Linked DNA regions of Homo sapiens: regions 1 and 2 are each linked to region 3. Evidence: fine-mapped expression QTL. A gene starts in region 3. Each other region holds a variant in brackets. All regions are shown on one strand. Distances are between the middles of the regions.

Evidence for each region. PIP is the estimated chance that this variant, and not a neighbour inherited with it, causes the effect. A credible set is the group of variants that fine-mapping cannot tell apart.
Region 1: its variant is the best candidate, but not a certain one, in a credible set for the expression of FAM193B in whole blood (TOPMed, PIP 0.77).
Region 2: its variant is the best candidate, but not a certain one, in a credible set for the expression of FAM193B in whole blood (TOPMed, PIP 0.62).

Annotation. Positions count from the first base shown.
Region 1 is chr5:177,663,660-177,667,842 of GRCh38, forward strand. It overlaps the pseudogene SIMC1P1. Among named protein-coding and RNA genes, the nearest start is that of B4GALT7, 66 kb to the left of the region's middle. The variant C/T (reference allele first, on the strand shown) is at 2,300.
Region 2 is chr5:177,520,473-177,524,655 of GRCh38, forward strand. FAM193B (family with sequence similarity 193 member B) reads right to left here. Exons shown (of 9, transcript NM_001190946.3): 6 at 3,713-4,183; 7 at 3,485-3,560; 8 at 1,502-1,599. The coding sequence ends at 1,503. Among named protein-coding and RNA genes, the nearest start is that of DDX41, 5.6 kb to the left of the region's middle. The variant T/C (reference allele first, on the strand shown) is at 1,849.
Region 3 is chr5:177,552,426-177,556,608 of GRCh38, forward strand. FAM193B (family with sequence similarity 193 member B) reads right to left here and starts at 2,138. Exons shown (of 9, transcript NM_001190946.3): 1 at 1,824-2,138. The coding sequence starts at 2,033. It overlaps FAM193B-DT (FAM193B divergent transcript), which reads left to right and starts at 2,203. Exons shown (of 3, transcript XR_941274.3): 1 at 2,203-2,504. RefSeq lists silencers at 1,307-1,416, 1,747-1,956 and enhancers at 1,837-2,340, 2,067-2,226, 2,247-2,396.

The DNA.
Region 1 (4,183 bases), 110 kb after region 3:
ATGTGGCACATATACACCATGGAATACTATGCAGCCATAAAAAAGGATAAGTTCATGTCCTTTGAAGGGACATGGATGAAGCTGGAAACCATCATTCTCAGCAAACTAACACAGGAACAGAAAACCAAACACTGCATGTTCTCACTTATAAGTGGAAGTTGAACAATGAGAACACATGGACACAGGGACGGGAACATCACACACCGGGGCCTGTTGGGGGGTGGGGGGCTAGGGGAGGGATTGCATTAGGAGAAATACCTAAGGTAGATGATGGGTTGATGAGTGCAGCAGCCACCATGGCATGTGTATACCTATGTAACAAACCTGCACGTTCTGCACATGTATCCCAGAACTTAAAGAATAATAATAATAATAAATAAAAAATTAGCTAGGCATGGTGGCACTTGCCTGTAATCCCAGCTACTCGGGAGGCTGAGTGGGAGAATCACTTGAACCCGGGAAGTGGAGGTTGCAGTGAGCCAAGATCACTTTGCCTGGGTGGCAGAGTGAGACTCCATCTCAAGACAAACACACACACACACACACACACACACACACACACACACACACACACCTGAACTATTATACAAGCTGATTGGCAATGTTTTTGGGAAAACATCTTGATCAAATGAGGGAAATGTGAGTTGTCAGTATCAAAATGGAGTCACCTGGCCAGGCGTGGTGGCTCATGCCTGTAATCCCAACACTTTGGGAGGTCGAGGTGGGTGGATCACAAGGTCAGCAGTTCGAGACCAGCCTGGCCAATATGGTGAAACCCCGTCTCTACGAAAAATACAAAAAAATTAGCCAGGTGTAGTGGCACATGCCTGTAATCCCAGCTACTCAGGAGGCTGAGGCAGGAGAATTGCTTGAATCCGGGAGGTGGAGGTTGCAGTGACCCGAGATCGTGCCACTGCACTCCAGCCTGGGTGACAGAGCGAGACTCGTCTCAAAAAAAAAAAAAAAAAAAAACCTTGACAAATAGAGCTAGGGAAGGCCATGAAGGGAGGATTACTATGCACAAATGCCTGATAAGTACCACAAAAGGCTCTGCAAAAACCACAACCTTACAGAAAAAAATACTTCCATGAGGACATCTGCCCAGCAACTGCCTGCTCGACCTTGGACTGGAGCCACCCTTGTTATTAATCCTTGCAGATAACGATAATTATCTCAAAACAATTATGTAATCCTCCTCATTTTTCCTTTAAAAGCTTCTGCCTTCCTTTACCTCCCTGAATACACACATAGTTTATTATGGCTCACACACTCCGGTTGCAATGCCATTCCTGAATAAATATCACTTTCTTTTTAGATAGTCGCTGTCTGTTATTTAGGTTGACATAAGCATGACAACTAAGAAATCATAAAGAAAAGGAGTGGTAGAATTGACTATATAAAAATGTAAAACTTCTGTAATTAAAAAAACAAAATCAAAAGTTGAAAGAAAATTGTAACATGTATGACAGGAGGCTATATTAGTTTCCTAGTAAAAATTACCAGAAACTAGGTGGATTTAAGCAACAGAAATTTATCCCCTCACAGTCCTGGAGGCTAAAGGTTTGAAATCAAGGTGTCTACAGAGCCACGTTCTCTTGAAGGCTCCAGGGAAGAATCTGTTTCATGCCTTTTTCTTAGCTCCTGATGTCGCCAGCAGTCCTCGGTGTTCCTTGGCTTGCAGCTGCATAACTTCGGTTTCTGCTTCCACTGTCACATGGCGTTCTTCCCCTGTGTCTTCACATGTTCTTCTCATAAGGACAGTAGTCATGTTGTATTAAGGGTTCACTCTACTCGGCACAACCTCATCTTCACTGATTATATCTGCCAATGACCCTATTTCTAAATAAGGTCACAATCTGAGGTAGTGGGGGGTTAGAACTTCAGCACAGCTTTTTAGGAGATACAGTTCCACCTATACCAATCTTTAATATATAAGTAGATTTAACAAATGAATAAGAAATGTTGGCCGGGTGCGGTGGCTCATGCCTGTAATCCCAGCACTTTGGGAGGCCGAGGCGGGTGGATCACTTGAGGTCAGGAGTTTGAGACCAGCCTGACCAACATGGTAAAACCCCGTGTCTACTAAAAATACAAAATTAGCTGGGCATGGTGGCACATGCCTGTAATCCCAGCTGCTTGGGAGTCTGAGGCAGGAGAATCGCTTGAGCCAGGTAGGTGGAGGTTGCAGTGAGCTGAGATTGCACCATTGCACTCCAGCCTGGGCAACAAGAGTGAAACTCCCTCTCAAAAAAAAAAAAAAAAAAAAAAAAAAGGAAAAAAAAAAAGAAACATTATAATA[C/T]CGCAACAGAAAAATGGGCAAAGGACAAGCATAGGGAATTTGCACACATACCCTATGTGTTTCCAATAAACATAAGCAAGATGTCTGGCTGTACTATATGTGAGCACACTCCTTTATCTCCAACCTCACTAGCTGCTCTTCCTCCCTTGGGCTATGCACTATGGTGTTCCCTTGGGCTAGGTTCTGGATGTTCTTCCTCTTGTCACCTCAACCTAGATGATTTTATCCAGGTCAATGACTTCACTATAACCTATGCGCTAACAAGACTAAATTTGTATCTCTAGTCAGGACTTTTCTTCAGAGCTCTAAACTCAGTACAAATGTTATACTTGGCATCTCCAGTTGGCTATTCCACAGGCATCGTTAAGTTTTATACCTTCAAAACAGAACTCTTGAATCTTTCCTCTAACCCTGTTCCTCCCAAGTCTGCTTCATTTCAATGCATGACACCAACATGCATTCAGTTGCTCAAGCCAGAACTCAGGGCATCCTTCTTCATTCCTTCCTTTCCCTTGTTATCCACATCCAAGTTATCAGGACCTGTTGATTTTATTTACTAAATATCTACATCCCTCCACTCTCCCAGTCTGTACCACCACTCCAGTCCAAGCTACAGTTATTTCTGACCTGGACTACTACAGCCAACCTTCTAACTGATCTCCCTAATTTCACTCTTCCCCTCTTACAGTAGGGTGACTACACTTCTGCTTTGTTTGGGACAGTTCCAGTTTTCACCTGTTGCTTGACATCCTGGTCCAGTTAGCATCCCTTTTCATTTGCAAAAGTTTCCCAATTGGATGATAAATTATATGGTCTCCCTACCTTACCATCTTTTCTTTTCACAGTAGCTAAAGTCATCTCTAAAAAATGTAAATCAAGGCTAGGTGCAGTGGCTCACGCCTGTAATCCCAGCACTTTGGGAGGCCGAGGCGGGAGGATCATGAGGTCAGGAGATCTAGACCATCCTGGCCAACATGGTGAAACCCCGTCTCTACTAAAATACAAAAAATTAGTCAAGCGTGGTGGTGCGCTTGTAGTCCCGGCTACTCGGGAGGCTGAGTTGGGGGAAATTGCTTGAACCTGGGAAGTGGAGGTTGCAGTGAGCCGAGATCGCACCACTGCACTACAGCCTGAGCAATGCAACAGAGCAAGACTCCATCTCCAAAAAAAAAAAAAAAAGGTAAATCAAATCATGTCACTGTCCTGCTTAAACCTTCAAAGATTTCTTACTGTATTACAATAAAATCCAAATCCCTTATTGTGGTCTCCAAAGCCCTATAACCTAACCTACCTACTTCTCATCTCTTCTGACTCTGTCCATCAGTCGTTACACTGCAGCCTCACTGGCTTTCCATTCTTCCAGTAAGTCATGCTCATTCCTGCCTCCAAACTTTTGGTTTTGTTGTTCCCTTTGACAATGCCTTATTCATCTAGATCTTATAACTAATTTGTTGTCATTTTAGTCTCAGGTCAAATATTAACTCTTCAGAGAGGCCTTCTCTGAAAACACAATCAAATGTTCCCAATCCCACCAAAGTTACTATTATACTGTTCTCTTATTTGTTAGTTTGTTTACTGCCTATCTTTCCACAGCAGAATGTAGTTCCATTATCATCTTGTTCACCTCTGGTCCCCAGGGTTACAGCATATGCTCAATAAATATTTATTGAATAAATGAATCATAATAAAAAAATAATGACATCTTATGGAATCTGGCTATCAAACAGCAAAGATTAAAAGAACAAAAATACCGTATTTTTTCCCCTAACACTCTGTATTATCACCTGACATTACATTTATAGTGCTGTTTACTATCTGTGTCCCCTCAGTAAAATGAAATCTCCATGACGGCAGGGACTTGGTTTTCATAGATGTATTCCCAGC
Region 2 (4,183 bases), 32 kb before region 3:
TGCAGCTGTGCTCCTGCCTCTGACTGTAGGTGCACAGCCCGGGGGAGGGTGAAGAGGCTCAAAGGAGAGCGCTTACTAGGGGGTGGGGAGAGGGGCATCTTCTATCTTGGAAAAGAGGCCAGACCAGGTGAAAAAGGGTCAAGAGGAGGCAGTGGAAGGAGACAGTTGCATTTGATTTCTTGAATGACAGAACTGGGCTTGTGGGAGGAAATGCGATCTCTTTTCTCTCAGTAGGGATAACAGATGAAGTGCCTGGGGTTCCTGCTACTCCTGGTTCCCATGGAGGTGGAGAAGAGGCAGGAGGCCACCTTGGATCTGGAAGATACTTCTGGGGCTTGTGGGCATCTCAGTTTGGCAAAGGGGGCTGACTGAGCCCAACCCCTTCAGAGGAGAGGAGGACTAAAGTGAGTGTAAAGAAGACAGTCTGGACTCTGGGGCAGCACAAGGGTCACAGGGAGCCCCAGCTCTGAAGGCTGTCCTGGCTGCAGGCTCTCTGAGCTGCCCCTGGGGAGCTGAGGGTCCAGGAAGTTTGCTGCTTAGGCCCAGAGAGGAGCTGGCCTGGCACTGGAAAGAGGAGAAAGACAGGTGGGGCCATCATGGGGGAAGTGAGTTGTTTGTGAGCTCAGTCTGCCTGCCCCAGCCTTCCAGTCTCCAGGACAGCTGTGTGGTTGCCAGCCGGAAAAGGCCTGACCCCAGGGACACAGCTGAGGGTTGAGATATGAAACTGCAGAGCCACTCAGCCCCCAGCCCAAGGTCTGCCTGCTAGCTGCCCTTCTCTTCATCAATAGGGTTCCAGGCCCAGTGCCTTCTCCAGTTGTCTGTTCCCAGTCCAGATCATCATCTGGTACATCATTGTTTCAGACAAAAGGACCTGTGTGGGTGGCTGGGAGGGGATGCCAATGCCATCTGGCACCCAGGTCTCTTCCTCTAGGAGGCACTGTGGCTACCAATATCCTCATGGAGCTTGCCCTGCTTTGGGTAGCCCCCATCAACTCCTCCATGCCTAAATGACCCACGATGTTCACTCAGGGCTGGCCCCTTCTTATACTGCTTCAGCTGGGAAGTACCTTGGTAGCCTACACTGAGGAGCCCAGGGCAGGAAGTGGGACTTGACACAAGGACTGATAACATCAGGGGTGAGGGCAGCCCCATGGGTCTGATGGCTACCTGGGCACTTTTGAAATCAGCTGGTTAAGACCCTGATGGTTATGCCTTAGGAGATGCCAGTCCAGGAAGGGGACCTTCAGGAGCATGGGCAGCAGGGCCCAGGGAGGAGTAATAGAACAGAGGCCTACAGGTGAGTGGCTGCGGGAGGAGATGGGGCCTTGACCTTTGGAGGCTGTAGCCTGCCATTGCTGTGAAGATGCAGACAGAAGCCAGGGATCCCATGCCCCAAGTCCAACTCCCTGTGCCCCAGAGCACAGAATGGTCTGGTGAGCGTACAGAGAGGGTGGCCAAGCACAGGGAGAGGCAGTGGATGTAACTCTTGGGGTCTCTGTACCTCACTGAGCTGTGCTAGGAGTGGTTTTCTTGAGGCTGAAGTTGGTCCAGTTCACAGCAACTTTCTGACGAGTCTGCTTTGCAGAATCCAAACAGAACCTGTTGGGTTTGGGGGACACATGAGAAGCACAATCAGAGGTTCATTCTTTTGCTCACTGGACTCCTAAGGTACCATGTCCCCATCACTAAGAGACCAGGTTCTCTACAAAACCTCTTTGGCTCTCAGGTGCTAGGGTTTAGCAGGCATAGGAGCTTTGCTGGCTTGGGGGCTTCTGGATTGGGCCCAGGGAACTATGTATGAAGACAGTGAAACTGCCTTGGGATTCCAGTTCCTCCTCATCTGGTGTT[T/C]GATTCTCTAGCTCTGCTAGGCTGGCTTCCGTCATTCCCTTAAGTACAGTCGTCCCTCTGAATCTGCTGGGGATTAGTTACCCAGATACCAAACTCTGCAGATGCACAAATCCCTTATATAAAAATGGTGTAGTATTTGCATAAAACCTGCACTGCTCTTCCCATATACTTTTTTTTAAAATTACTATTTTTTTTTTAAATAAGAGATAGGGTCTCACTATATTGCCCAGGCTGGTCTTGAACTCCTGAGCTCAAGTGATCCTCCCACCTTGGCCTTCCAAAGTGCTGGGATTACAGGTGGGAGACACTGTGCTTGGCCTTCCCACATACTTTAAATCATCTCTAGATTACTTAAAATACCTAATACAATGTAAATGCTATGTAGTTATTATATTTTTATTTTTATTTATTTGAGACAGAGTCTTACTCTGTTACCCAGGCTGAAGTGCAATGGCACAATCTTGGCTTACTGCAACCTCTGACTCCCAGGTTCAAGCGATTCTCTTGCCTCAGCTTCCCAAGTAGCTGGGATTACAGGCGCCCGCCACCACGCCCGGCTAATTTTTGTATTTTTATTAGAGACAGGGTTTCACCATGTTGGCCAGGCTGGTCTAGAACTCCTGACCTCAAGTACCTCAAGTGATCCGCCTGCCTTGGCCTCCCAAAGTGCTGAAATTACAGGCATGAGCCACCACCTGTAAAAATACGTATTTTTTTGAGACGGAGTCTCGTTCTGTGGCCCAATCTCAGCTCACTGCAGCCTCCACCTCCCAGGTTCCAGCGATTCTCCTGCCTCAGCCTCCCGAGTAGCTGGGATTATAAGCACGTGCCACCATACCTGCCTTATTTTTCTATTTTTAGTAGAGACGGGGTTTCACCAACTTGGCCAGGCTGGTCTTGAACTCCTGATCTCAGGTGATCCACCCGCCTCGGCCTCCCAAAGTGCTAGGATGAGAAGCATGAGCCACCGCGCTTGGCCAAAAATACTAATTTTTAAAAAATTTGCATTATTTAGTAATGTATTGCTATTTTTTGTGTTTTGTTTTTTTTCCTGAATATTTTTGATTGCAGATATGGAGGGTGACTGTATGCCGTGTTTCTTTCACCCTAATCTTTTGTACTCACTGGCCCCCTTGGCATGAATACCTTTTCATCTTATCTGGCCAACTCATTCTTACTCTTCAGGTTTCAACTTGGTTACCACCTCTCCTGGGAAGGCCTCCTGGCCAGCCCCCACCCCTTCTATCCTCCCCAACTCTATGCCATTTATCAGTAGGCTGCATGTTCATGGCCAGACTCCTGGTCTAGACTGCTTCATTGACCTCAGCCCAGGCAAAGCAGAGAATGTGCAAGTGAAGACACAAAGCAAATAAAGCTGGAAAAAGCCCTGGTTCTTGGGGCCTGACATGCCTCCTCCTATCTCTTGCACCTTCCCAGATGTGCCATCCTGCCCAGTGGCTCCGTGGGTTTTCAGCAGGCAGGCTGGTGGGAGAGGGCCTGGGGGGGCGGTGAGCCTCCCCAAGGGGTCAGGGCCAAGGGAGCAGGCCTTTCTGAGGCTTGAGGCACAACACAGGGCTTGAGTGTGGGCAGGACCTGGAGTCCTCCACAAGTGGGAGAGCAGGCAGCCCACACCTACCTCTTAAAGTACTCCACCTCTCGGTCAGTCTCATCCATCTCCACCCCGTCCATGTCCTTGGGCAGGAACACATCGTCTAGGAAGACACAGCCAGGAGGGCTCAGTGCCCATGGCCAGGCCTTTGGGGTTATGCTCTGGGGGCAGCGCTGTCTACACACAAAGGCTGCCCCTCCACCCCGTGGACTGGCTGGGGTAGGGGGTCAGCCGCTCAGTTCCTGGTGCACTCACCCAAGGAGGAGGCTGGCTTCTCCTGCTTGTTGCGGCTCCGGCGGCTGCGGCCCTTGCCCTGGGGCAAGCTCTGTGGCCTTGCTGGGCCTGAGGGCTGCACAGACTCCTGCTCCTGAGGCCGTGCCTTGGCCTCGCCTGGCCAGTTTCGCCAGGAGCTGCCCTTCTCCTTCTCAGTTTTGGGACTGCCAGCCCAACCTGGTCCTGGCCGGCTCCCCCGGCTCCCCTCTCCAGCCTCAGCACAGCTGCCTACTTTGGGAAGCTCTAGGACCCTGCCTGGCTGCTTGGGGCCAGCGACCTGGCCCTTGGCACTGGGAACCTCTAGGCTGGCTGGGGGCCGGGGGGCTGGGCTTGCCTCGCTCTTCTTGGCCTGACTGCCCTGCCTCTTGCCCTTCTGTGGCTTCCCACCTGAGGACACAGGCTCAGGCAGCTCCTGCTTGCAACTGGGAACTTCCTTTGAGCTTGGCTCCTCGG
Region 3 (4,183 bases):
AAGAAATTGATGAAGCTTAGAGCTCTTGGCAAAGTTGTGTCCTTAATAAAAACTGAATGGTTGAGCCATCATCCAAGCTTTTTGGCATCTCTATGTGGCAGAGACCCTGAAGTATTCTATGGTCTGCTGAATGGGAAGAAGAGAAGACAACAGCTTTCCAGCTCTCCCTTCTCCCACTCTCCCTTTTTGGATAACAGCACTCCCACGGGGGTCCCAGAGTAGGCTGGTGGGGGAAGCAGCTTTGGGGTTGGAAGCTAGACCCAGTAGGGGTTGGGGGTCCAACCTGGGGAGTCTCCTACGGAAGTGTCAGCCTAGGATAGGAGATGGGGATGCGGATGAAGGTGGAGCTTCTGACACTCAGTAAGTGCTGACATTTTCATTAATTAAAAACCTTATTGTGATCTGAGACACAAAGGAAATCAGCATGAAAACTGGGTTACAATAAGCACGGGTTCTGGACCGATTCATTTTCTCTCTCATTCACCTAGTTATTTTTATTCTGTGTTAGCAAGGCCCTGGGCGAGGCGTGGAAGATCAGAGAAAGATGGCATAGCCTGTGTCCCTGTGGAGTTCACAGTCCAGGGCAGGCAACAGACATATCAACACAATGTTTCATCACAGAAAGGGGAGTGCTACCAGAGGGAGGCACAGAGGGCTGTGGGCACAGAGAGGGCACCTGACGCAACTGGGGAGGTCAGGGGAGGCTTTGTGGGAAGGTACCCCAAACGGCAACCCCACTCACATGCACAATTCCAGAGATTCTACTAGAAGGCTGTCAAGAGCCATGCCTTCTGGCTGCACCAGCCTCCCAGAGTCCCCTGCTGCCCGATGCAGTGTCTGCAGAGCCAAACGCATCTTCCGCCACGCCTCATCCTCATCCGGCGCCGCATCCGACCCTCCAAGACTCCTGCAGGAGCCTGCCTTCCTGGGCAGGCTCAGCCAAAAGACCAACTCAAAACTCTTTTGTCAGAGCAAGCTTAGGGAGAGCCACCCAGCCCCGAGTGCCACAACCCTCCCAGAGCAACCGTGGCCCATGTCACCCCCGCCTCTCAGTGAACTTTGGCAGGGTACCTCCCGTTATCTCCTTTGCTCAAAAGAAAGTGACCTTCTTCCAGGTGGCAAGCTGGAAGCTTTGGGGAATCCTCCTACTGTTCGCTCTCAGCAGGATTCTCCAAACCTGGGATCTCAAGGTCGGGGTGGGCTGCCTTGCGGAGCAGGGGAGGGAAGAAGGGCAGGTTCTGCTGGGTTTCCACCTCAGTGCAGAAACCCCACCAAAAACTCCTCCGGGCAGCCTGGCTGTCTGCTCCAACTGCTCTGCTGGGTATGGCGAGGAGGCGCCAGGAGACACAGCTGCTGAGGGGGCCGCGGCTGCAGGCGCTGCAGGGGACGGAGTGGAGCCGTTCCCGGGGGCAGAGGGAAGAGGCTGCAGTCGTCCAGTCCCAGAGCCCCGAGATGGCCTGTGGCTGAGGGAGCAGGTGGGCCCGGGGGAGGTGGCGGGCCGAGAGCGGAGCTGCGGCCTCGGGATCACAGCCCAGTCCCAGTCCCAGTCCCAGTGTGGGTGTACGGCCGGAACGCCCGGAGGCGGCGGGGAGAGGGGAGCAGCTTCAGCCTAGTCGCAGGAGCGCGGACCGAGCCTCGGCTTTGGGGAGAGGGGTCCAGCCTCCATTCCCGCCCCGGGGGAGAAAGCTTCGGCGCCGGACCCGGGGGAAGGCTGCTACCCCAGCCGCGGCAGGATGGCCCATCCCCAACCCCGCCCCACTCCCGCTCCCGCTCGGGGAAGGTGAAAGCGCCCGAGCCGCCGAAGTCTCCCCGCTCGCTCCTACCTGCGGGCCGGGCACCAGGTTGGGTTCGTCATCCTCCCTGGGGCCGTCGTGGTCGGGCTCCGCCGGCGCCTCCGGAGGGCCTGCACCCGCTCCCGCCTCCAGGCTTGGCGGCGGCGGGGGCTCGGGCGCCTGGGGCTTCTGCGGCCCCGCGGCCCGAGCCCGCTCGCGCCTGCCCGCACCGCCGCTCGGCCTGCTCCGCCTCCGCGTCATGCCGCCGCTCGCGCCGCTCCCTCGCTCCACACGCCGCCGCCGCCGCCGCCGCCGCCGCCGCCGCCGCCGCCGCTACCGCTCCCCTCACAGGACAACAGCCAATATGGCGGCGCCCGGTTCCCCCCCTCCGCCTGCTGCCAACAGGTCAGAGGGCACGCGGAGTCCGCGCCGCCGCACTAGCCCCCGAGGCCGCCTGCGCCATTTTGAATAAGGTCACCACCCGGAGTTCGCTGGGAGAAAAACTTGGTGGGGAGACGCCCTTCCCCCCCTACGCGGGACGGGAAGGATGCAACCTGCTGGAGGAACGCGTGTAATGCGGTGGTAATCGCGCTGCACCACCCTAGCACTTAATAATTGCCTGTTAAATGGATGAGTGAATTAATTTCTATAGTGTTACAATACTTTCACACCCATCGTCTGACTCCTTCCGACAGCACAGCGAGGCAGGTACGGATCATTCCCATTTTGCAGGTGAGAAATATTGAGGCAACATAAAGGCCTGGAAAAGGTTGCTGTACATCATTTTGTTGGAACTCCTGGGCTCGTGGACGGCCTGAGTTGAAAGGGACGAAGGTCTTTATTTGCAACATATGGTCTACTGGGAGTCCAGCGTTCTGTGCTTGGGACAGTGGGACTCAAACCCGACTCCTTGTTCCCGAGTCTGATGGGGAAGGTAGACACGTAGGTACATAGTTACAACCGGTGTGATAACGATGAGACGACTAGGTGTTTCCAAAAAAATAGTATGTGCAGGAGAGGATTTTGGAGTGGTACACAAAGGAGAATTTTTAAAACTTAATAATTATGTATTTAATTGTTAAAAATGGAATTTCCCCCCTCTTTTTGTGAATATACTGTATAATACATGTACATGGCACAGATTAAAAAAAAAAAGTTTTGAGTGAAGTCTGTCTCATGCCTGGGCTATGTACTCTGAAATTGTGGTTATATGCAGAGTTGCTATTGGTATCAACAGGGGCGGAATCCTGACACTGGCTTCCTAACCCATGGGGCAAGGGCTATTTTGAAAGGAAGAGCTACATGGAAGGCCCTGGAGCTCTCCTTAACTACCAAGAAAATAAATCAAAAATAGTACCTTATCTCACCCAGGGATTAATGCCACTATCAAAGATTTGAAAGACGCAGGGTGAGTCCCATCACATCACCATTACCTCTTCAGTTTGCCCAGAACAGAAGAGAGACGGCCTTGAAGAACAACAGAGCATTATGATAAACTTACTTATTCTGGTAAGAACCCCAACTGCAGGCATTCTTCCAGATGCGGTCCTTCTTGGGACAGATCAGCACAGTTGTTGGTCTCTAATAGGCAACAAGAGGTCTGGTCAATGGTTATTCTTCTGTACCAAACACCAGGAATCCCTTGCATTGATCTGGCAGGGGCAGCGGTAAACCCTCACTGTCTTGCTTCAGGGTATGTCACACTCTGGACCCAGCCACTTAGTTTACAGGGATTTTTTTTTTTTTTTTTTTTAATGACAGAGTCTCACTCTATCTCCCAGGCTGGAGTGCAGTGGCGCAATTTCAGCTCACTGCAACCTCCGCCTCCTGGGTTCAAGGGATTCTCGTGCCTCAGCCTCCAGATTAGCTGGGATTAGAGGCACATGCTACCACGCCCCCTAATTTTTTTGTATTTTTAGTAGAGACGGGGTTTCCCCGTATTGCCCAGGCTGGTCTCGAATTCTTGACCTCAGGTGATGCACCTGCCTCGGCCTCCCAAAGTGCTAGGATTACAGGCGGAGCCACTGCACCCTGCCAGTTTACAGGGATTTTTTTTACTAAATCTCCATTCTAATGGATATCAGGCTAATCTGCTGAGGCACTGATGACATCATCTTGATGGACCTTAAGAAAAGGGAATAGCAGATATCCTGGATGATTTGGTAAGGCATGATGTGTGTGCCAGAGGATGGATAATAAATCTCACAAATATATAGGGGCCTCGCAGTAAGCCATCTAGGAGTCTGGGATATGTTGAGATATTTCGTACAAAGTGAAGGGAAAGCTGCTGTAGATCACACTCCCTACTAGGGAAGAGGTGCAATACTTGGGCTGGGGCTTCTTTAGACTTGGTAGGTAACATAGATGTATTTCGATACATTATTATTATTATTATTATTATTATTATTATT